3 separate regions of the Homo sapiens genome follow, and regions 1 and 3 are each linked to region 2. The links come from fine-mapping of genetic effects on gene expression. A gene starts in region 2. Each other region holds a variant in brackets. All regions are shown on one strand. Distances are from middle to middle.

The links. PIP is the estimated chance that this variant, and not a neighbour inherited with it, causes the effect.
Region 1: its variant is fine-mapped to the expression of CHN1 in whole blood (TOPMed, PIP above 0.99).
Region 3: its variant is fine-mapped to the expression of CHN1 in tibial artery (GTEx, PIP 0.91).

What each region holds. Positions count from the first base shown.
Region 1 is chr2:174,782,173-174,790,357 of GRCh38, forward strand. LOC124907908 (a long non-coding RNA gene) reads right to left here and starts at 5,778. Exons shown (of 2, transcript XR_007087311.1): 1 at 5,702-5,778; 2 at 2,047-2,697. RefSeq lists enhancers at 1-482, 5,141-5,956, 6,369-6,663. The variant G/C (reference allele first, on the strand shown) is at 4,270.
Region 2 is chr2:175,001,360-175,009,544 of GRCh38, forward strand. It overlaps CHN1 (chimerin 1), which reads right to left and starts at 4,022. Exons shown (of 13, transcript NM_001822.7): 1 at 3,535-4,022. The coding sequence starts at 3,553. RefSeq lists an enhancer at 3,192-3,738 and a silencer at 3,723-3,782.
Region 3 is chr2:174,762,523-174,770,674 of GRCh38, forward strand. It overlaps CHRNA1 (cholinergic receptor nicotinic alpha 1 subunit), which reads right to left and starts at 1,950. Exons shown (of 9, transcript NM_000079.4): 1 at 1,830-1,950. The coding sequence starts at 1,872. RefSeq lists an enhancer at 1,951-2,450. The variant T/A (reference allele first, on the strand shown) is at 4,066.

The sequences.
Region 1 (8,185 bases), 220 kb before region 2:
GCATTTCCTCCCCCTCTCCTCCCATTTTAGGTGAGAGGAGGAGGTGGCATGGGGGATAGAGAAAGATCTGGCAAGCTCGCCAGCTGGCACTGCGGCTGGGCTGAACACAGCGAGCTTGCTCTGCGCCCCCACAGAGCGGGGCCCAGAGCAGAAATGCGGAGGTATCCTCTCTCTTTGCTCCCCTTCCACCATCTCCTTAGAAGTCAGGTTGGTCTCAGGCATAGAGGGGGTAGGTAGCCCCTTGCTCAGTATGATCCAAGCGTCCACACACCTGCAGGCCCCTGCAGAGCCCCAACAATCAGGCTCATGGCACGCAGCTTCTGGGGGGAGCCATGTTTTTAAGAGTACACCGTTGCTTTCAGAAAGACCCATTTAAAATGCAAACCGGTAGCTTGGGAACAGCAATATATGACAAGCTCAATCCCCTCACGGAGTTGACCATCATATTACTAAGGGATGGCTCACGCGACAGTTCTAAGGATGGGAGCTGGAGATATTTTGATGCAAGTGAGGACATGCAGTGGTGGGTGCCCTGGGTGTAGGGATCACATGAGGGGCTTGGATAAGAAGGGGCACCAGGAAGATTAGTAGGAATAAGGAATGAGGTTGGAGACAGGGATTGTGAGCACGAGGCCTCTTCACCCCCTTAGGCTTACACTTACAGAGCCTCGCCTCTCCCTAGCATAGGGAAGAAGTTGGAAAGCTTTGGATACTGCTGTCCAAAACCCAAAGACCTTTCACAAGAGCCTGGGTCTGGACAACATGTCTGGTCTCCTCCCGATCCCTGTGTTGATGGCGGAGAAGGTGGTGTGATGACAGAGGCCAATGCATTCTGTAGGGGAGAAGGGACTCCCCTAGGAGCTGGATCTAGGGACAGACTTAAGCAGCATTTTATTTTTTGTATCAATTTCATGCATGGTTTGTTTGTTTTAAAATCTGGTTCAAGGCATTGTAGCTATGAAGACTCAGTTATTACTGAGCCTACACTGGGTGGGAGGATGGGGAGGCCTGCGGGGCTGCTGTTGCCCTTTTGAGTAGTTCCATTCTGGTGCCCAGAGGCTGGCATCACAGGGAGTCCTTGGCCCTTGGCCACTGAACAGAATAAAGACTGAAAAAGGGACCATGGAGGTAGGTGACAGAGGTGCATTGCTAAATATTACATTGTATTTTGTTTGAGTCTGTTTGGGCTGCCATAAAGTAATACAGGCTGGATGGATCACACAACAGATACTTATTTTCTCACAGTTTTGGAGGCTGGAAGTCTAAGATCAGAGTGCCAACAGGGTTGGTTTCTGGTGAGGGCTCTCTTCCTTACTTGCAGACGGCCACCTTCTCACTGTGTCCTCACATGACCTTTTCTCTGTACACACATGGAGAGAGAGAGAGAGAGATCTCTGGTGTCTCTTCCTCCTCTTATAAGGATATCAGCCCTACTGGATTAGGGGCCTTATGACCTCATTTAACCTTAATTACTTCTTTAAAGGCCTTGTCTCCAAATACAGTCACATTGAAGATTAGGGCTTTGACACGTGAATTATGGGGTGATATCATTCAGTCCATAACATACCTATATACATACGTATGCATATATGTTAACAGTAATCTTCTGGTGGTGGAATATGAGTGCATTTTTTAGTTTGTGTTCTATGATCTCCAGGTTTCTGCATTAAGAATATCTTACTCCTGTACTTACAGGAAGAAAGCAACAGGTAATAGTTTCTAAAGAGAAGGAACACATTTTCAGTTCAAAATAACATGTACTGTAGGATTATTTCTAGAATTACATCTATAACTTGTGTGCCCATCTACGGACTCACCTGCCTACCCATCTATCTGTCCATCTGTCCATCCTTCCACCCATCCATCCATTCTTCAGTTCTTCCTTCCATTCTTTTTTCCATCTGTGTATTTGCATTGAGAGATATATGGAATGAAAATGAACAAAATGTTTGTGATGGTTGTTTCCGTATGGTGGAGTTTTAAGTGATTTTGTATTCTTCGTACTTATCTCTTCTGCTTGAAATTTGTAATAAGGAGGTACGTAAATTTTTTCTCAATTCACAACATTGAACTTTTTATTTGCTTACACACATGATCCGAATCACTTGATTCTGGAACAGTAGTTGGTCTAACACAGCATCTCTGCTCTATTCATAGGGTGGGTTCTAATCACCAAGCCTAACTGAGCGTTCCTAGCTGGCAAGACTGAGAGCAACTCTGACCCCACAGCCTTGGTCGTGCTGAGGTTGCCAAGCTCAGCGTGTAAAGTGGAGGTGTAGCTCAGTGGGGGAGAAGAGAGGGAGTTTGCAGGCTACACCTGGGCTCCATTTAAACCCACAGCCGGGCATCTCGAGCCTTTGATGTATGCTGTGCAACTGGCTGGCGGGTCTGTAGCTGGCGAGGCTCTGCCATTTACAACTCCAGGGTGACTGCTAAGTGCCCTCAGGGCCTTCCTGCCCAGCTGCAATTGTCATCTCTGTTCCAGTCTCCCCTGACTCCCACTATTCTGAAACTGGGGCAGGAGATCCTGTGGAAAGATCTCCAAGGGCCTCTGAGCTTAGAGATCTCCAAGGTCAAGGATGTGGCTGTTGAACATTTTTAGCTCCAGTGAAATAGATAAGCAGCCTTCTGTGTTCATGGATTTGCAGAGCATTTTCTGAGTGTTGGAGAGCAAAGGAGTAGTAGGCACTTTCTCACCTAGGGTGGGAGTGAGAATGACACAACAGTTTAGGAAAACAGGCTAGCATTCGTTATTTAGGAGAGGCGAAGATACATTGGCACCATGACCTAGCAACCCTGCTCCTAGGCACATGCTTTGCATCTGGAGATGTATACGGATGATCATGAGAGTGTTTTTTCTAATAGCCCCATGCTGGAAGCAACCCAATGCCCATCAACAGTTATAGATGGCCTGCATAAATTGAGCTATATTTGTACAGTGGAATGCTATCCATCTGTAAAGATGAACTGATTACAGCTAGGGCAACAACATGGTCATAACCCACAAACATAAAGTCGAGTGAACAAAGAAAATCGAAAAAGAATATATACAGCATTATATTGTTCATGTGAAGTTCAGAAACAAAGCCATATTTTTTTTAGGGATGCATACAAAAGTAGCAAAAATATGGAAAAAAATTTATAAAACACAAGATACGGATACCCAGGGGAAGGAAAGGAATCAGAATCAGCCAGACTTTCTTTCCCAGGGTGGACAGGGACTTCTGGGGTGCCTGGCAATGTTTTTCTTCTTAACCTGGGTGGTGGTGACAAAGATGTTTGCTTTATAAATTATTCATTAAACTCTTCAGTTACATGTCTTTCTTTGAATATTTTATATTCACTATGAGAATATGCAAAAGAGAAAAGCAAAATCCAGTCTCCATGTCTAGAAATGGCTGCTTCCTTTACCCCAGGCTTCCTTACTTCTGGGACCTCCAAGCAGCATTTGTCCAAGTCTATGACCAGGGTCGTGAGTCAGTGTGCTCTTACTTTCCAAGTTCTATGATGAGCTTAGCCTTATATCTGGGACTGTTGTATGTGTGGAAGTGGGAGGGGTGGGAATATGCTGCCCCAAGAAGACAAAACATTAGGAATAACAGTGAAAACACGAGACAACGCTGTAGAGACTTCCAGTGTGGTGGAAGTTTGGAGAATGAGTCCAGGGAAGGAACACTCCATTGGTCCTGAGGATGGACTGGGGGAGACAGAAGCTGGGAGTGGGGAGGGTGAGAGAGGATGTTGTGATGAAGGTCCCTGTGAATGACCGGTGGAAGCCAAGTATTGCTGGATCCACAGGAGGGTTTGGAAAAGCAGGAGAATGTTTGCTTCACCCCACCTTGTTGCCAGTTTTTGTCCACCAATCAATCAATTATCAATTCAGTGATGCCCCCAGATATGTTATATCTAACAGTCAATAGGAGAATCTTGAACAAAGAAGACATACAGAAACCTTCAGAGAAAAATAGAAAGTGAATAAGAGAATTAAAAAATAGATGCCATTGTTCTCATTGCCAAACTCTATTGGAAAACAATCCTCAGCTGCTCCAGGAAACGCATTAATCAGAAGTCTCCCGGGCTTGCTGTGGAAAATAGTTTGGTAGTTCCTTACAAAGTGAATCATAGAATTACCTTACAATCCAGCGATTCTACTTCGGTTATATATCCAAGAGAATTGAAAGCAGGGACTCAAACAGACCCTTGTGCACCATAGCCTTATTCACCATAGCCAGAGGTGGAAAAACCCAAGTGCCCATCCACAGATGAATG[G/C]ATAAACAAAATGCAGCACATCTATATAATGGAATATGATTCAGCCTTAAAAAGAATGAAGCATTGAGACTGCTACAACATGGATGCACCTTGAACCCGTGCCAAGGGAAATAAGCCAGTCGCCAAGGGACAATATTATAGAATTATTCCATTTCTATCAGGTACCTAGAATAAGCAAATTCACAGAGACTGAAAATAGAACAGTAGTTAGCGGGGGCTAGGAAAAGAAGGGCATAGTTATTGTGTGTGTGTCGTTGGTTTGCTTCTTTGAGACAGAATCTCACTCTATTACCCAGACTGCAGTGCAGTGGCACAATCTCTGCTCACTGCGGTCTTGACCTCCTGGGCTAGGGTGATTCTCCCACTTCAGCCTCCCGAATAGCTGGGACTACAGGCATGCACCACCATACCTGGCTAATCTTTGTAATTTTTGTAAAGACTGGGTTTTGCCAAGCTTCCCAGGCTGGTCTTGAACTCCTGAGCTCAAGCGGTGATCTGCCTGGCTCAGCCTCCCAAAGTGCTGGGTCTGCAGGTAGCTATCATGCCCCTTGAGAGTTTTTTTTTTTTTTTTTGAGACAGAGTCTTGCTCTGTCACTTATCCTGGAGGGCAGTGGCACGATCTCAGCTCACTGCGACCTCCGCCCCCCGGGTTCAAGCAATTCTCCTGCCTCAGCCTGAGTAGCTGGGATTACAGGCGTGTGTGGCCACCCCCAGCTAATTTTTGTATTTTTAGTAGAGACGGGTTTTACCATGTTGGCCATGGCTGGTCTTGAACTCCTGACTTCAAGTAATCCACCCGCCTCATCCTCCCAAACTGCTGGGATTAGGGGCATGAGCCACCACGCCCAGCTGAGAGTTATTGTTTCACAGGTACAGTTTCTATTTGTCATGATGATAAAGTTCTGTAGATGGATGGCACAACACTGTAAATATAATTAATACCACTGAATTGTACATTTAAAAATGGCTACAATGGTAATTTTATGTATATTTTACCATATTCCAAAAAGAAGTCCACAGAAGCTCAAAAAATTGTTCCTGTGTGTTGAGATAGAGGAGAGAGGCCTGGGCTGTGGAATCATTTACTGAATACCAAGAAAGAAAACAAGGTAAACTTTCCTTGTTGAAGGTTGAAGAAGAAAAAAATGCTTTCTTTGGCCTATCCCTGGAGCTTCTGCTACTGTTGGGCCAGCCTCTGGCAGCAGCACAGAGATAGATGTTAAACAGCGCGGGTAGACCTGGGTGCTTTCAGAAAAGTGGCCCCTGCCCCTTCTTCCTATCCTCATCCCTCAACAAAGGCTGAACCCTGGTTACCCTCCAAAAGCCTGTTTTCTGGGAAATTGCCTTTTAGAATTTTTCTTTAAATGTATGAATCCACCCTGAATGCTATTTGAAAAAGAAAAGGAATTTAAAGATGTTGAAGTATGCTTACATATACACAATGGAAAAATTTGCTTCTCAAACAGCCTGAGTAGAAAACCTCGCATCCCCATGGCAACCAGATTCCACTGTGACCACACATCAAATGGGTGGGTGACCTGGCAATGTAGGCCTGGGCTCTTCAGCCCCTCCCTGCGAACATATGGGGCCCAGATGTACCACCCACTGCAGTAGGGTGCTTGAAGCTCCAGGATGGCTGGCTGAGGGCTCTGTTCTAGTCACTAAGGGATATTCCTGGAGACCCATCTAACCTGGGACAGGGAATCAGTTCTTCCTGAAAATCATAGAGGGGCAGGAGACTCTCCCTCAAGCCATTGCCCCGGGGAAATGCAAGACCCCTGTGGCTACTCAGGGGCTTGGATTACTAGGATGAGTGGTTGGGATTTAAAACAATTGTGTGCTGCTGACCAGAAAACCAGGCCCTTGGTAACACAAGAACTGCAAGTCCTGATCAGTTAAAAACCTAAAGAATAATCAGATCCTTAATGCTTCATTTCCTTGAACAGACATCTGACCCTTTTATAGAGTTTGTGTCATCTTCCCCTTTGATCATCTTCCCCTTTGATCATTCAGAACAAGTACTTCTTTCCAAACTACGGTCTCAGTCCCATTTTCAAATAGTATTTTGGAATGGCTAGCCTATGATAACCCCACCTCCCTTCCTGTTGAGCTTCCTAATGATACCGAAGGGAAGAGCGTGGTCCCTTTAAGTGATACGGAAGCGGGGGCGGGGGGGGGGGGGGAGGGAAGGGCGTGGCCCCTGGCTAGGGCTCCACCCCTACGAGCCTAGATGAGGACAGGCATTTTTGTTTTCCTGCTCAAATGCTGCATTTCCCAAGACCACCCTGGCCTGCCACGCCCCCATCCTGTGCCTATAAAAATCCTGAGGCCCTAGCAGGCAGACACACAGATGGCAGGACGTGGAGAGGAGCACAATGGCGGAGGAACTAGGCCACTGACCGGCAGAAGCAGAATGATGCTGTGGCAGTCGGATGAGAGCCCAGGCCGCTGAGCTGTCGACTCCAGGGGGGAAGCCTTCCCACTCCATCACCTTCTGACTTCCCCCATCTGCTGAGAGCTGCCTTTACTCAAAATCTTGCACTCATTCTCCAAGCCCAGGTGTGATCCGATTCTTCAGTTACAGCAAAGCAAGCACCCAGGATACAGAAAGCCCCCTGTTGTTGCAACAAGGCAGAGGGTCTAATTGAGCTGGTTAATACAAGCTGCCTATAGACGACAAAACTAAAAGAGCGCAGGGTAGCACACGCCCACTGGGGCTTCAGGAGCTGTAAACATCCACCCCTCGACACTGCCGTGGGGTTGGAGCCCGGTAGCCTTCGCGTCTGTATGCTCCCTAGAGGCCTGAGTAATGGGGCACTGAAGAAGCAAGCCGGTCCCCGTGTCGCACGCCCTGCAAGGGCGACAAGTGAACTTTTCCCATTTCACTAAGGTCTTTCTTTTACGAAATTGATGTATAATAGTTGTACATGTATATGGGGGTACGTATAATATCTTGATACCTGTATACAATTTGTAATTATCAAGTCAGCTGATTGGGAAATCTATCACTTCAAACATTTTTGAGTTGGGAGAGTCACAATTCTTCTAGCTATTTTGACATAGACAATAAATGATTAACTATAACTTCCCTGCTATACTATCGAATACTACAACTTACTCCTTCTATCTAACAGTATTTTTGTCCCCATTAACCAACGTCTCGTCATCCTCCATCCCTTCCCAGCCTCTGGTAACCACCATTCTCTCTCTATTTCTATGAGATTCACGGTTTTTTTTAGCTCCCACACATGAGTAACATGTTATTTTACTTAACATAATGTCCTCCAGTTTCATCCATGTTGCTGCAAATGACAGGAGTTTTTTATTTTTATTTTTATTTTTTTTTTTTTGAGACAGAGTCTCGCTCTGTCGCCCAGGCTGGAGTGCAGTGACGCGATCTCGGCTCACTGCAAGCTCCGCCTCCCGGGTTCACGCCATTCTCCTGCCTCAGCCTCCCGAGTGGCTGGGACTACAGGCGCCCACCACCACGCCCGGCTAATTTTTTGTATTTTTAGTAGAGACCGGGTTTCACTGTGTTAGCCAGGATGCCCTCGATCTCCTGACATCTTGATCCGCCCGCCTCCGCCTCCCAAAGTGCTGGGATTACAGGCGTGAGCCACCACGCCTGGCCCGGATTTCATTCTTATGGCTGAATAATATTCTATTTTGGATACACCACATTTTATTTATCCATTCATCTGTTGATGGACACTTAGGTTGATTCGCTGTCTTAGCTATTGTGAGTAGTGCTGTGATAAACATGCAAGTGTCTTTGGCATACTAATTTCATTTCCTTTGGATGTATATCCAGCGGTGGGATTGCTGGATCATACTGTAGTTCTAGTTTAGGTTCTTGAGGAATCTCCGTACTGGTTTCCATAATGGTAATACTACTTTACATTTTCACCAACAGTGT
Region 2 (8,185 bases):
ATTCCTATGGGAAATCAGAAAATTTCCTAACTACATCACAAAGAATATGCCATTGCTATTTAATTGCTCCAAAAGATGTCCATAGGTAGGTGTGTCAGGTTAGTGACAGATGCTGAATAAAGTGAGATAATGAAAAGGTTTCCATGGCAGAAGGGTCTGAGGAAAGATGGTACAAAATTATAGCAAAATCATAAGCATTATTAGAAGTGATCTATGGTAGTAAGATGGTGACTAAATGGTAACAAGAATAAGGGGCAAGGAGGGTGAGCAGCAACGCCAGAGGTGACTCTACCCAGATAGAGGACCATTATTCAAGGTTCAGCCAGCCCAGCCGACGGTAACTGAGTTCCCAATCGCATCAGTTGGTCTGGGCTATAAACCACAGCCCCATTAAGCTATAAATGACAGAGATTCCTGCCAAGGCAAGAGCTGGCAGAATGCTTATTCACCCAGCTCTGCCAACTAAGGCTCTATTGGTGTGGCCAATCAGGACATTTTGTCAGGTACACCAGCCACAAATTCCCATATTCAAGGATCTGAGACTTTCCTTTTATCCCAGTAATTACTAGAAAACATGTGCTCTCTACTAAGGAAGTTCTCACAAAGCCTATACGGAATTAGTTAATAGTTAAGTGCCACTCACTATACGGAATTAGGTAATTAGTGAATTAGGTGCATTCGCTATAGTTCTAGAAAAGACTCTGAAGTGCCACTAGAGGACCATGTCTCTTGTACGCTGTGACAGATGTTTGCTGAAAAAATGAGCAAGGTGAGCGAGCAGAGTCTGTAATACATTTGGATAATTTTTGAAATTGGGGGATTTAAAAACTATATCGAAGCTGATAATGAGATGTGAGTTCATTTGAAAGGAGAAGAAAAACGGGTGCAAATTCTTAAGCTTTCAAAAATGCACATTTTCAATTCCCAAATGAGACTGTAAAATCTTTCAAGATTGGGGTCTGGTTCTTCTATCCCAAAATAAAACTAATATGCATTAAAAATATGTTAAGCAGCAAAGGTGATTAACAGTGAGGATGAGAGATAAAACAGTCTTAACTATTCAGCTTAATTTAACAAGTATTCGAGTTCCTATAATATACTTAACAGGTGAAAAAAATTAAATGTATGCAAATACAAAATCAGGTAATGTTAGAGGCTCCACTTTTTAAAACTAAGTCACCAACTCCCTATAAAAAGAACATTTCTTAAATTTATAAAAAGCCTGAATGGAAAGAAAATGTAAAACACAAAGCAAATAACTAGTCTAGACTCTACTGCTGGACTGCACTAACTAATCAACCAAGATACAAAAGATAGGGCCCTGGCAGTCGTTACTCTGGGGAGCCTCAGGTATAAACTCTGCTGAGCTCTGACAAATCCTGTTGATCTGGTTAGGTCCCTGCCTCTAACTCTTTTCACTACCATCTCACAGAACTTTATTGCTCCATTGCTCTTCTGTTCTAAGTTGGTCATTAAGAGTAAATATGAAGGGACATGAGGCACTTCTGACTAAGACCAACTAGTTAAAGGTAGTAAAATCTAAAATAAAATCCATTTCTTCTAACCCTTAGGTACATCTCTCAACATACACAAAAAGCTATTTTGTATTGGGCGAGTTTGACCCAATCTCCTAGCATTTATCTTGAATACAACAGTTCTCAAACTTGAGTGAGCATAAGAATCACAAAGGGAGTCACTTTAAAATCCCCTTCCCCCATGTCTTTGGGCAAAAGAATCTACATTTTTAATAGACATCCCAGATGACTGATGAGTGGTGTACAACCACTTTTAAAAACAGCTGCTGCTCTATCACTACTTAACAAATAGCCTCTGCACTCAAGAGTGCTTTGTTTTATAACACAGAAACGTTCACACTGTAACAAACTGGATTTTGGGAAGTGAATTCTATTTTCCCATAAGTAGACTTTAAAATTTTAAAGATACATTATTCATTTTGAAGGCTGGGAGTGATTTCTTATACTTTCTTCTATAGGCCACATTCCATGCTTTTCCCTTCCTCATCTTCACCACAGTGGTTAAAGATTTAGAATTTAGAAATCCTTTTAAAAGAGCATTTTTCACCCCAATTTATCTTTTTTATTCGTCAGGAATGCGAGTATTTGAAAAGTTGACTTGTAAACCTTACTTCTGAAACCACACCTTGAAAATGCCAAATATCTCTTTAGGAAAGAAAATGTTTGTACCAAAAAGGTCCACATTTAAGGAAAATGCTGCTATTAAATAATGCTTAGATACAAGGTACTGAGAAACAGCGAGAATTTTATTATTTTTCAGAAAAAGAAGACACTTTTTTAAAGTACCTATGGAGGATCATCACCAAGTAAGAAATGGCACTTCTAGTAATGCACTTGGGCACAGTAAACACAGTCCCAGACTGAAGCCTGGTGAAGTGAATTCTAGGCTCAGTTTTGCCACAAAAGAGCCATGTGACTTTGGGAAACAACCTCTCTGGGTCTAAGTTTAATTTATAAAATAAGATAGTTAAATAAAAGTAACACTTTGATTCTAGCAGCTTAATTCACTGGGAAGTATTTACCTCAAAAAGCATTTGAGGTATGTAACACCTCTAACGTGTTTGATCAAATGACATAATTAAAACTGAACTGGAAACTTGATATTGTGAATAACTTACTTAGGCTGTTCTCGTAGCTATCAATTACATATCATTGTACTTTGCTTCTTCAAAAAAGCTGAATACTTTGAACGTCTAATGTTCACATATTGAGTTTTCTTAAAGTCAGGTACGTATGTACCATAGTCGTTTTGTAAAAGGAAAGAATGTATCTTTTCAGTCCTTTTTCCCAACCCATTGTCATTGCAGACTGAGAAAAAAACAGCTTGAAGTCTTAACCACCAAAAGCAACAGTGCTGCAGTAATTACACCACAAAAATAACATTTCATTCTTAATGAATACTCAGTCTCCTGAGATTACAGTTATCTTCTGGTAACCAACTTTATTCTGTCTGCTCTCATTCGTTAGTGCAAACATTTTCAATTTTAACCCATATTCAGTTCACAAATCATACTTATTTCCAACGGAATATACTGAGTCCAAAAAAAAAATTCCCCAATAGTCCAACAGGAAGCAACACATGCATTTGGCAATTCCAAGGAGGCTGGGGACTCACAGATACCTCGTTCAAAATAAATAAACTTTCCAAGGATTTATTTACCGACGGGAAAGGCAGGTTTGAAAACAACCAGTTAACTTCACTCCCAAGTTGGCATCTTAGAGAATCTTTGTGCGTTTGCAAAACACCCAGGACCTCTGAGCCTCCCAGCCGAGAATTGGCCAGGGGAGCACACGCCCATCGGCCCTGCCGGGAGAGGAAACAATGGGAGAGGCGCGAGGGAGCAAGCCGGCGCCCCGGGCGCCCCAACTCTGCGGCCCCGGCCCGCCCCGACCCCACGCGCCGCGCCCCCTCCCCGGGCGCCCAGGCCCCCCAGGCCCCCGCCCCCGAGCCCCGGGACGCGGCCCACCTGCGGCGGCGCGGGGAGACGGCTGCACTTACCAAACAGGGTCAGGGCCATTGTAAAGGCGCTCGCCGCCGCCCGCGAGTCCAGGCGCTCCTCCCAGGCGGGCTAGGGATCACCTCATCAGCCCGCCGCACCCACACCTCGGAGAGAGTGGGGTGCCCGATGGGGCGTGCTGGGGGCGCCGGCGCCCGGGGAGGCTGCAGGCCGGGACGCGGGGGACCGCTGCAAGAAAAAGTTATTCACGCGTTATTGTCGGGCGCACCGGGCCCAGGGAGCCCCGCTAGCTCTCCGCGAGCCGGCACTTGTCGCTGCCATCAGGCGCGGAGCGTGCGCGCGGGAGGAGGTACCTGCGAGGCAGGAGGCTTGGCCGCGGCGCAGTGGCTGGCGGAGAGGCGGCGCCGCACTGGCGGCGGCGGCGGCGGCGACGGGGAGAGCAGCAGCAGCCTCGCACAGCCCCCGGCGGGGCGCGCTCACTCCGCATCCCGCGGCCTCGCAGACGCCATCTTGCGATAGCGTCTCCCACGAGCTCGGCCGCGCCGCTGCCTCCCGCCTCTCCCTCGGGCTTCCCGGTCGAGTGCGTTCCCATGGCAACGGGCGCGCGCGGGGGTAAGAGGGTGCGCCCTCATTCCCGCGGCTGCGAGGAGCCACCAGCGCCCCCCTGGAGGCGGCCGCCCGGAGCGGGATGGAGCGGGGCCGGTGTGCGTTTTAGCTGAAAGCCCAGGTTTTTTCTTGAATGGAATTTGAGGAGGCGCAGAGAGGAGAAAAACGCTGTTACTCGAAAGAGGAAGAGTCACAGGAGGATGCTGAGTGAACGCAGCGCCCAGGCAGGGTCATCTGGGGACCTGGTGCGTGTGAGAACATATTTCTTCTCCTGGCGCCCTCCAGGCTCACTGTGGCTGGAGCCGGTGACCTGAAGCTGCAGGGCTCTGGTAGGAACAGAGGCACTGAAAGCTGCATTCCTCTCCGTTTGGACTTAGGAGCTGCTAGTAGTTCTGATGAAATTGACACACATTAGGAAAAGGAGTCGCTTAAAAAGCATCTGAGATTACCTAAGATAATTTGTTAAAAGACCAATGCTTACACCTGATTTTCTTCCCTTTACATTATACCTCTTTGATATTGTCTCAAGGAAAAAAAAATCAGCATGTGTCACTGACTGGCACTTATTTGCCACAAAAGATTGTTCCCCTGAGCTTCTTGTATTTATCTGATAATCACTGGCAACGTCCTCCTTTCTGTGATGTTGTCTCCTCACCTCTGTCTCTGCCATGAGGAGCCATACAACGCCTTGAGATTGTCAGCCAAAAGATGTTCTTGAAAAGCTGGGTTATATGTTTTTCGTCGTTGTCGTTTAATGTATTCAAAAAGTCATTCTTCTCTAGTTGCTATATGTGTTCCCTGTTTAAGAAATTCCTTCTTTTTTCTTGTTTCTCTGCTTAGGGATTTGATACTATTTTGGTATCTGATCATGTAGATCTTCTCTTTGGTTCTCCTTTCTTTCTACAGGCGTCTTTCCTCTTAGTTCCTCAGGTTCCCTAGTGTCTTCTCTCCCATTTTCAAATAATTCTTTAAGAATATTATAGAAATATCTTGTATTTAATGTATCTTAGAGATCGAATCCTGATAAAGTGGGAGATTACTACAGTACTTCCAATGGAACCACAGTTAATTCACCATCATTATTTCAAAGCAGACTTAAGCATCAGAAGAAAAGCAGGTTGGAAGGAGGAGCCAAGCCTTTTGTTTCAAGTCAGTTAACTCAGGAAGAAAGAAATATTAAAATGATTCAACATGAATGGGCAAGTGTTTAAGATGCTATATGTTTGGAATTTTGTGATGTAAAATGGCTCTCTTTAGCCACTAATCAAAATACATCTTTAAAATCCCCAGAATTTAAAATCTTTCATGAAAATGGACTCTTGATTTTGAACAACCTTTCTGCTCATAAAAAATTACAAACACACAGCTCATGAAAATAAATGAGAAACTCAAGAAAGCTTTGTGGGATAGATTTTATAACCATATAAAGATTGCTGCTAATCTGCTCTGCAGCCAAATAAATCAGAAACCGAAGACTCCATTTACTGTTTCAACTAGTGGTCTTCAACATTTTTGGACCAAATTTCCTTTTGAGGCTCTAATGAAAATACTGTCCCTCCTCTTAGAAAAGTGCTTGCATACATACACACATTCACCGGAAATTTTTCACATAATTTCAAGGGGATTATGGGCTATTCAGGGACCTTAGGTGAGCCCCTGGAAGTGTTTTTTGTAATCTCAGAAAGTTTTTGCCTTTATAATTTAAAGGAAAATATTTTCCTTCAGAATAGAACCATTGAATTTTGAATAGGAAAAGACCAAAACTCCCATGATTTATAGGTAAAAAAATTGAGTTCCCCGTAAAAAGATTTTCCCAAATGTGTTCACCTATTTAGTAGCAGAACCAATGGGAAAATCTTAGATTTCTGGTGTTCTCACCGACCACCTTCCCTACCCACATCCCGCATCAATTTAGAGGTTGCATGGTTTGAATTTCAAAAGAAAAATCTGTTTAGTATTAGAAGCAAAATAACGAGAGTATTTTGTCCTTAGCCATTCTGCATAGAGTTTGGGAAGTTGCATTTTGTCTCAAAGAGTTTTTATTAACATGCCCTTCTACTCAGAACTATGTGTCCCATCATGCTAAAAGAGAAACAATGCCTTTCTCTCCTCTTTGTTAAGCTCTGTTAGAGCATCAAGGTTTTGGTGCTGCAGCTCAGCTTGCTAGTAGCTCTCTCCATCCCTTGAGGGGTTGTCCTGGGAGTGAGACAGAGAGAAAGGAGCTGCCCTGCACTCAGATTTACCCTCCCATCATACAGCCGGCCTTTGGTTACTAGACCAGCTTTCCACTCACTAGTTTGGCCAAATACAACTGAATCCTAGTGAAATACCCTGCTTAAACTCAAGTGAAGATCCTTTTCCTCTCCCCTTTCTACTCGCACACCCACGTACACACACACACACACAGCTGTTTTTAAGGTACAATTTGGAACAAAACAGTGTGAATGTTGCTATGTTTCCCTTTAAAGCATCCTGCTTTCCACGAGCCATTCCTTTCAACTGACTTCCAAATGGTTTGATGCTCTAACAAAATGCTCTCTATACTTGATCAAAGTGCCTGTCTTGGAAATAGTATTGGCTTTTAAAATAGCGTATTTTTTTCAATGAGCTATTCCTATTCTATTGCATGTGCTTCTTTTCTCACTTAGCTGAAAATAAAGCCACAGCCTTTCAGCTACAGAGTCAATGCAAGGAAGGGCGTTAACTGCTTGGAGGTGATTATTACGGGTGGTGACTTAGATTGTTTATAAAAGAAGGGCAAAGAATGAATTGACTTCTCAAAATATTTATGTTTTCATTCAATGATTTCATTTTGTGCTTAACATGCAAGTGCTTAGAAGAGCCAGATTTGTTTATTCGTTACTAACTAGCTGTCAGATTTTTAGACAAATGTTTTACTGTTTCTAGTTCTTATCTTCCTCCTTTGTAAAATGAAAGGATGGTACTAAGGTATCTCTAATGTCCCTTTTAGGTTTATCTGTCATTGTGTGATATTTTAAAATCTTTAAATTAACTGGTTTATGGATAAAACAGAGGACATTTTTATTTGAATCTTCAATATATTTAAAGTGCTGTTATATCTAAAGTTCATAAATACCTAATGTAATAAAGAAGTCATATTTTGTCAAACCAGTGGTACTGCTATTTCTTCTGCAATGTGTTGTACTAATAATGTTATATTAATCATGTAGAAAGCAACCTTTTTCTGGTTTAACAGGATTAAAATTAAAAGTGTGCACTGAACAACCCATTTCAAATTTACTAAAACAATTTCTCATTTTTATTTAAGTTTTGTTGACTAAACAGAACCTAGACAACCCTTTAAAATGGTTTTCCTACATTTTAAACTAATGACTTATCACAAGTGTTTTGAATTTCTTTTTGTTACCCATTTAGCTTCATTCCCATTGGTAAACATTGATTTGTTCCTCAGTTTTCAATGAAGCAGAAATTAATGAGGCGGTTTCTGCCTCACAATAACAAGTTAAAATTATAGTACTTTGTCATGTCAACACAGCTTTAAACACTAGGAATACCAGTGCTATTAGCACAGTTCCCAAAATAGTGCAGAAGTTTGCTAGTGAAGAGAAAAATGTTACACAGTATACTTCTGCTAAAGTTAAAATTAAGAAAGTTAAAATTATTTAAATATTCACAATATGTGACATTCTCTCTATCCCATATTTATGTTACTAGTTACAGTGTTTGTTTCCACTGTGTGAATTTGTTTAAAGTGGATTTGTTTTTGTTTTGAGACAGGGTCTCACTCTGTCACCCAGGCTGGAATGCAGTGGCACAATCTCAGCTCCCTGCAGCCTTGAGTTCGTGGGCTCTAGCAATCCTCCTACCCCAGCCTCTGGAGTAGCTGGAACCACAGGTGCATGCCACCACACTCGGCTAATTTTTGTATTTTTAGTAGAGACAGGGTTTGCCATGTTGCCCAGGCTGGTCTGGAACTCCTGAGCTCAAGCAATCCACTCCTCTCAGCCTCCCCAAAGTGCTGTGATTGCAGGCATGAGCCACTGTATCCAGCTATTTGGTCTGTTTGGTTTTTTGTTTTTTTTTTTTTAGACGGAGTTTCACTGT
Region 3 (8,152 bases), 240 kb before region 2:
TCGAGATATTCAAAACTGAATCCTTCTTCCTACCCTCATGGAGATTGACATTTGTCATTTACGTAAATAACTGTGAACAAGTTGGAAAGTGATATGCCGTAAGAAAGACGGCAATGAAGTGCTTGAGATTCCAGAGGCAAAGAAAAGAAAAAGTTGAAATGAAAAGTGCTGTATAAATAGAACAGAGATCACGCTGTGTTAAGCTAACACAGGAAAAGAGTCCCTGATATAAATGACAATTTTGTCTACAAAGGACTGATTCTAAGAAGGGAAACTCAACCACAGTTTCAAAGTGTTCCTTTTGTACCACACTGGTTCCATTTGTATTTGTATGTAGGAAATAGCTCCCTGGGCTGGGCAAAAGAAATTTTGAACTGTTACTAGTCCCATGGATCATTATTATCTTAACCTGATTCTGTATCTCTTGCTACCTTTGGCTAGTTCAGGCTGTGTTTTCTGACTGTGCATGTAATAAACCAAGTCTCCAACTGACCACATTCCAAAATGTATAAATTAAGTGACCTTGGGCAGGTCAGCTTTAGTTTCCTTGTAATAAAAAATTGAGGATGTTGGACTGCCTGATCTAGCTCTAAATTTCTATAAAACACCCATGGAAATCAATGCCAGCAAACTCGAGATTTGACCTAAATACATATCACATACTTCTTTAATAGCTAATCATGCATTTTTGGTTAGCAATAACCAAAATCCTAAGAGATCTCTTAAGGATGTTTACATTAAAGCATATCATTTAAGAATTTTCCTGTGACTGTGGTTTTGCGTGCACGCATGTGTGTGCACGCGCGCGCACACACACACACACACACACACACACATCAGGCCAGCTTTGGCTGGACAGAGTCCAAATCCCACATGATATAATTTATCTGAGTTTAGGCTCTTTCACTCAACTCTGATATTGAAAAAAATTAATAATAAAGCTTTTTGCCTCTTGACCAGAAGGCCTGTGTTTTTCAGAGCAATATTGGAAATGAAAAATCACAGGATGTCAGCCACCTTGTTTCTCAGTTGGGATGATATCACCAGTAAACTTTTATGTGAAGCAATCAGCAAACATCTCCTGTTTCCCTCTAGCGGAAGTCTGGGATTCAGGATGGTGTTTCAGCTGCTGTGTTAGGACACATTCCAGAGTAGAATGCAGGTCAAATGCTGTGCAAGGTTTTATAGTTTCAATTCAAACCCAAACCTATATATAGTAACATCTTAAAAAAAAAAAGTAGGTAGGAATGTATTCATATGGAATTTTTTTTAACTTCAGAAATTTTGAAAAAATTAAAAAATATTTGTCTCTGTGGAGAGAGTTTAGTTATGATTATTAACTGGTTTCTATCTCCAGCACATGTAGCTGTCAATCAGTCCTCTTTATTATTAGAATTCTCCTGGAGCAGTAAAGGGACTTGTTAACTCCATTGTATGTGATTATAAGGCACTGTTCTAAGTATCCATAGTTGTTTAAATATGAACCCCCGGACACTACCATGATCCACAAGTGGTCCAGGTCCTACAAATGGTGCCGAGTGTTCAGAGGGATGAGTCGGCTGCCAGGCATGATGGAGGGAGAGACATGCGTGTCTATCTTGAAGTCTTTGACCAGGCAGTTTCTATTTTAATTAGATAAGGCAAACTAAAAATCTTTATCCAAAAACTCAATCAAGCTAACATCAGGAAGAAACTGACAGAGCAGCCCCTGGTTGGGGAGGCTCTGCCATTCTGTGGTCTCATCAAAGAAGCAAGACTTTGATTTGGGGGCCTCCAGCACTTTAGCCTCAAAGGAGAGCCCTCTCCCCACCCCTGACCCCAGCACTTACCTGAGCAAAGGCTAAAGAGCAGGAGGAGAGGCCAGGGCTCCATGGGCTACCGGAGCTTGTGTGGACCAGGGCAGAGTGGTGGCCTGTGCTTCTCACTGGCACTCTGGCTGGGTGCTTGTCTGCTGGAGGGTTTGGAAAGCGAGTCGGCTCACTAGAGCTATTGTTTTACACCACCTGTTTGTGGGAGCGACAGCTGGGCTGCCCTCAGCCCTGGAGCCCAGGGAGTTACTGGGACTGTACACCATTACAGATATGCCTCACTTTACACAATTGCTTACCCTTGACAAGCTGAGTATGAACTGCATTATATTTTAAATGCACCAGTAGTCAGATCTTAATGAAAAAAAAATGTATAGGAAGGAAGGAATTATTTTAAATGGTGAGCAAACTGCCTCTCTTTTGTGTAAACCAGAACCTCATCTCTGTGGGTTGACTTGATTAGGGTCATTTGGTCTGAGTAGATAGTCAGCTGTTTGTCCTAAACCACAAAAATCCACATTCTGCAAACATGGCTTCAGTTTCATTTCCTCTGCTTCAGTGTTAGGCTGAGGGTGCCGGGGGCTTTTCTGACTGCCTGGATTTCAGAAAAGTGTAGCTGGTGTTGAGTCTGCTGCTGGGAAGCCCCCACGTTGATTGGGTTTGGTTTTTAACAAAGACAGCTTCTTCCATAAAACTGGCTTTACTGGCCCCCAGAGTGGCTGTTCCAACCCCTGCCTCTGTATCAGGCAATACCTATCCCACACGAACCATTAGCTGGAGCAAATTGCCCACGTCCTATGCACTGTGATTCAAGCGAAGAGTAATTATTGGGAAAAAGTGTCCCACCGCATCAGCAGTCGTTCCGGGTTCCTGCCTCCTTCCATCCGTCCCTCTGCCTACTCTCACTCAGGGAAGCAAAGAGCAGAGTGGTTCAGCTTTTCAATTATCTTGCTTGAAAAACATCCTAAAAACCAGCAGTTAGTAATTTCTCAGTCTGAGAAGTATTGTTACCCTAGCTGTGCTTCTTTGCAGGGTGTGAGGTGAGTTCCCAGAAGGAGACAGTTACTTAAAGGTACCCTGCCTGTTCCTTCCAGGCCTCCTTCCCACATGGAACTAGGTGAGAAAGGTCCTCTCACCTCAAGCCCACAACAACATCCTGACAGATCCTCTCATTCCAGTGGATCCAAACAAATCATTAGAGAAGGGGCTTGGAGGGTAGAGGAGAGAGCTGCAAGCTCATACTATTTATATTTTTTGTTTAAACTGTGGGAGATCAGTTAACTGTTTGCTAAAAAAAAATTTGGTTCTCTCCCTTCCATGGAATAGCCCCGTGGCAGAAATACAACCCCCACCCTCTGACCAGCCCCTTCCATCTAAATGGAGCCATGGGACTGACCTCTGGCCAGTGGCATGAGTGGAAAAATGTTCTCAGACTCACAAACCTACCAGAGCTCAGCCCCGCCCTTCTAGTCTTCTGACCGGCTAGAATGGACATGGTCCCAAAGTTAACCTTAGAAACCATGTTCTGAAGGTGGTGTTGCTTTTGACATTCTGAATCCTTGAATGACTGCATGGAGGGGGACCCCCTATCCACCTGCTCACCACCCAGCACTATTTCAATGAAAACAAAACATGCATCGTGCTGAGCCATCAAAATCCTTGGGTTTATTTGTACAGCAGCTAGTGTTCCGTAATTAATAAAATATGTAATCCTTTGCACTAGTATCCTGAGGTTAAAAATAAATTCTAAAATATGTAGCACTGCAGCAGAAGGCAAGAAAATTGATACTGGAGGCTGAAAATATGAAGACCCATGTTATATGGTATCAAATCATTTCATAAACTGTTGTCCTCAATTACTTGGTGAACAATGTGTCTACTGAGCCTGTAGCTCCCAGAATAGAGGCTGGTAAACCCAAAGTTAGTGCACCATGGCTCTTTCTGGCTTTGTTTAGCAAGTCAGTACAAGGAAGAGCTGAGCTCAGGCAAAAATGTGCTGGTTCAAGAGCAGAAATGAAAAGAAATAGAATGAGTCCAGAAATGTGGAGTCTTCTGTTTTGAACTTCAAAAGAGTAAGTGAAAACATGGAATAAAGGCTTTGAGCAACCAAAGCCCGTTAAGACTTCTCTTTAAACAGGCAGTTTCATCACCACAGCAAAGATCACTTTAAGGGTGCTTTCTTCACAGCCAAATCTATTTTTTTTTTCAGATGGCTTCAAGATGGCTGCTATTAAGTTGAAGGAGAGAGGTATAGTGG[T/A]TAGGATGCAAAGAAATTAATCAGATTAAAGAATTGTGACCATGTGTGTATATAGGCACATGGGAATGATGGAAACAAATATTGCAGAAGCTTACTCAGTATTTGAAGGAATTATATTGCCAAAGAGTTCATTAACCCAGGCTACAAAAGTTTTGGTTGTTCAAGGCTTAAAGCAGTCCTTGAGTTCCCAAACACACACGGCCAGAAAGCAGGCTCCAAGATCTGCACAGTCTTCCAAAAAGGGTGCTTTCTCCATCCCCTCCTTCAATTGTGGCCGTGAGGGAAAGTGGGCAAGGAAGAACCTCCCCGGGGCATAGCCAGGAACCTCAAACAGCAACGGACAAGGGAGTTCCACCCACAGAGCAGAATCGGGTCGAATCGAGGAATCTGTTGAGACCTTCTCTGTGCCTACCCTGGCTTTCTGCTTACTGCCAATGCCTGCAACCCTGTAACCGAGGGATTTTTTTTTCTTTTTTTTTGGCCATGGGAACACATGAAACAAGCCTGAGATGCTAAAGTGTTACTGCCTCCAGAAACAGGCCTCAACCAATGTTGGAGGATAAATATCCCCGCCCCATCTCCCCTTGGACTGGGTAACCCCCAAGCGTGCCCTACACTCTATGTCTGTGGGAGTGAGTTCCTGTTGCCCATGATGGAAATGGCTCAATAACCCTCCCTTTATTGGCTTCCTCTCCTTCTCTGTCTCTTCTCCCCAATCTGCCACCTCTCAAGTCAACTCAATACAGGGTCAGGGGGACCTCAACTCAAGACAGAATTTCTCCCACTGCCTGGCATGGGGTCTTCACAGTGATATCATTGGAGGCTTTCCCCCTTTATTGCCACAGTTTAAACAAACTGTGATCTCCCACAATTTAAACAAAAAAATCTCTTCTAAAGGTGAACAGTTGAAACCATAGACTAAAAAAAATTACTAAAACTACTATTAATATTATCCTCAGGAGTAAACTGTTTTTTTCATTTAAAAGTTTATTATTCAAGTAATTTGAATTTATTTTAGAGAAATTAGAGAACAGATGAATGAAAAGACCTGCTATCCTTCTACCCAGAATATTTATTTTGATGTTTTAGTTTGTGTCTGTTCAGACCCTGTTTCCATGCATTCCATTCATTCATTCACTAAAAATTTTTTCACTGGGTTTTGCTATGTGCCAAGCAGTGTTCTAGGCATTTGGAATACATCAATAAACACAGCAGACAAAGATTCCTGGTTCTCAGGAAAAATGCATTCTAATTGGAGGAGATGGATGATTAAAAAAATATATATTTTTTACAATTTATTTTTATATATATTACATATGTTATATATTACATAAATAAGATATATATCCTTTTAACAATTTATTTTTATATCATATGTTATATAATATATGGTTATATATTATATATATACATATATGTTTGACTGTATATGTTTACATATATGTTTACATGTATTATATGTTTACATATATTATATATAAACATATATTATATATACATATACATATATTATAAATAAAATATATATAAATGTATATATAAATATATTTATATATTTATATATGAAATACATATATTATATATAAACATACATAATATATAAACATTATATATTATATATAATATACAAACATATACAATAAATTATATATGTAAACATATACAATAAATTATATATGTAAACATATACAATAAATTATACATGTAAACATATATAATATATAAATTGTAAAAAGATGTATATTTTTTATTTATATAAAATATATATTTTTATATATTTTTTCTTATATGTTATATAAATAAGATATATATAATTTATATAAGTAAATTGTTATAACTAATAAGTAAATTGTTTAATGTGTCATCAGGTAAAAATTGCTATAGGAAAAAGAAAAAGCAGAGCAGGATAAAAGGGGACCAGGACAGCTGGAAGGGGATTGCAATTTTAAACACAGCAGGTAGGGTGGGTTTCACTGAGGAGGTGGCGTTTGAAGGAGATGCAGACAGATATCTGTGCAGGAGCATTGCAGGCAGAGTGAGCAGCAACGCAGTCCCTGAGGGGAATGGGACTGGTGATCTCGGGCATAGCCAGGAAGCTGGCAGGCTGGAGCAGGGCGAGAGATGGGGAAACTGCTAGGAGATGAGGTCAGGGAGCAGCCCAGGGAAGGGGGACGCAACACGCATCCTCGACTTTCATTCTCTGTGAGATGAGGAGCCTCTGCAGCATTTTGAGCCGAAGGGTGACACCATCTGACATATGCTGTCAAAGGTCGACTCTGGCTGCTTTGGGGACACCAGGCTGTGGGGGTGTAAATTAGGAGCTACTACTGCAGTAATCCCTGAGGTAGATGGTGATGAATTGGACCAGAGTGGTTGCAGTGAAGGTGGTAAGAAGTCGTTAGATTTGGGAAATGTATTTTGACGTGAGGGTTAATGGGATTTCCTGAAGGATTTGATCTAGAATGCAAGAAAAAGGGAGGCATTTAAGATGATTTGCAGGGTTTTGGCTTGAGCATAAGGAAGGATTTAAATGCCAACAAGTGGATTAAGGAAGACCGTGGATGAGCAGGTTTAAAGGGGGGAAAATTCAAGGGTTCTGCCTGGGGTGTGATCAACTGGAGGTGTCCATTAGAAATGTGAGCAGGCAGTTGGATTTTTGAGTCAGTAGTTTGGGAAATCTAGAGTAGATGTTGTTTAAAGCCACAACAGGATAAGGTCAAAGGAATCAGTATGGGCAGAAAAGAGAAGAGAACTAACATTAAGTTGGAGGCTGGGCGTGGTGGCTCACGCCTGTAATCCCAGCACTTTGGGAGGCCAAGGTGGGTGGATCACCTGATGTCAGGAGTTCAAGACCAGCCTGGCCAGCATGGTAAAACCCCATCTCTACAAAAATACAGAAGTTAGCCAGGCATGATGGCGGGTACATATAATCCCAGCTACTTGGGAGGCTGAGGCGGGAGAATCACTTGAACCCGGGAGGTGGAGGTTGCAGTGAGCCAAGATCACACCATTTCACTCCAGCCTGGGCAACAGAGTGAGACACCATCTCAAAAACAAAAAGAAAAAAAAAAAAAACAGTTGGGAAATAACTTGGGAGGCTGAGGCAGGAGGATCACTTGAGGCCAGGAGTTTGAGCCCAACCTGGGCAACATAGTGAGACTCCATCTCTATGAAAAATAAAAAAAAAAATTAGCCAAGAATTGTGGTGTGTGCCATGGTCCCAGCTACTTGAGAGGCTGAGGTGGGAGGATCCCTTGAGCTCAAGAGGTTTAGGCTACGGTGAGCCATGATCATGCCACTGCACTCCAGGCTGAGCAACAGAGTGAGACTCTGTGTCATTAAAAAAAAAAAAAGTTGAGAAGAAGAGGAGGGTGCAGCGAAGAAGACTGAGAAGGAGGACACAGTGAGGCAGGAGGAGATCCACAAGAGGGTAGAGTTCTGGAAGCCTGGTAAAGGCCAGTGCAGGAGGTGGGGTGGGGGTGAGCCCATGAGATGAGGACAGAAATGGCTACGGGGCTTAGCACTATGGAGGCAGGCCACTGGCAACCTCACATGTGTGAAACCTGACTGAAATAGGTTTAAGGGGGCAGAATTGGAGGTTTTACTGAAAAAGGTAACAAAGAAATTAGGTGGGAGCTGGTGGGAGCAGAGTGAAAAGAATTTTGTTGTTGTTGTTTTGTGCCTTTTTCTGAATAGAAAAAAATAACAGCATACAGCATATTTGCATGATAATATTCAACAATAATAGAGATATAATGTTTTGATCCAATCAACAACATTACAAATGTTCCAGAGGGGGCTGGGCCCAGTGGCTCATGCCTATAATCCCAGTGCTTTGGGAGGCCAAGGGAGAAGGATCGCTTAAGGCCAGGAGTTGGAAGTTACAGTGAACTGTGATAGCTTAACCAGTGCATTCCAGCCTGAGCAACAGAGTGAGACTCGGTCTCAGAAAAACAATTTCAAATGGGATTTACTATATATGCTTTTCTTTTCTTTTTCTTTTTTTCTTAATTGAGGCAGGGTCTTGCTCTGTCGCCCAGGCTGGAGTGCAGTGGCATGATCTCAGCTCACTGCACCTCTGCCTCCC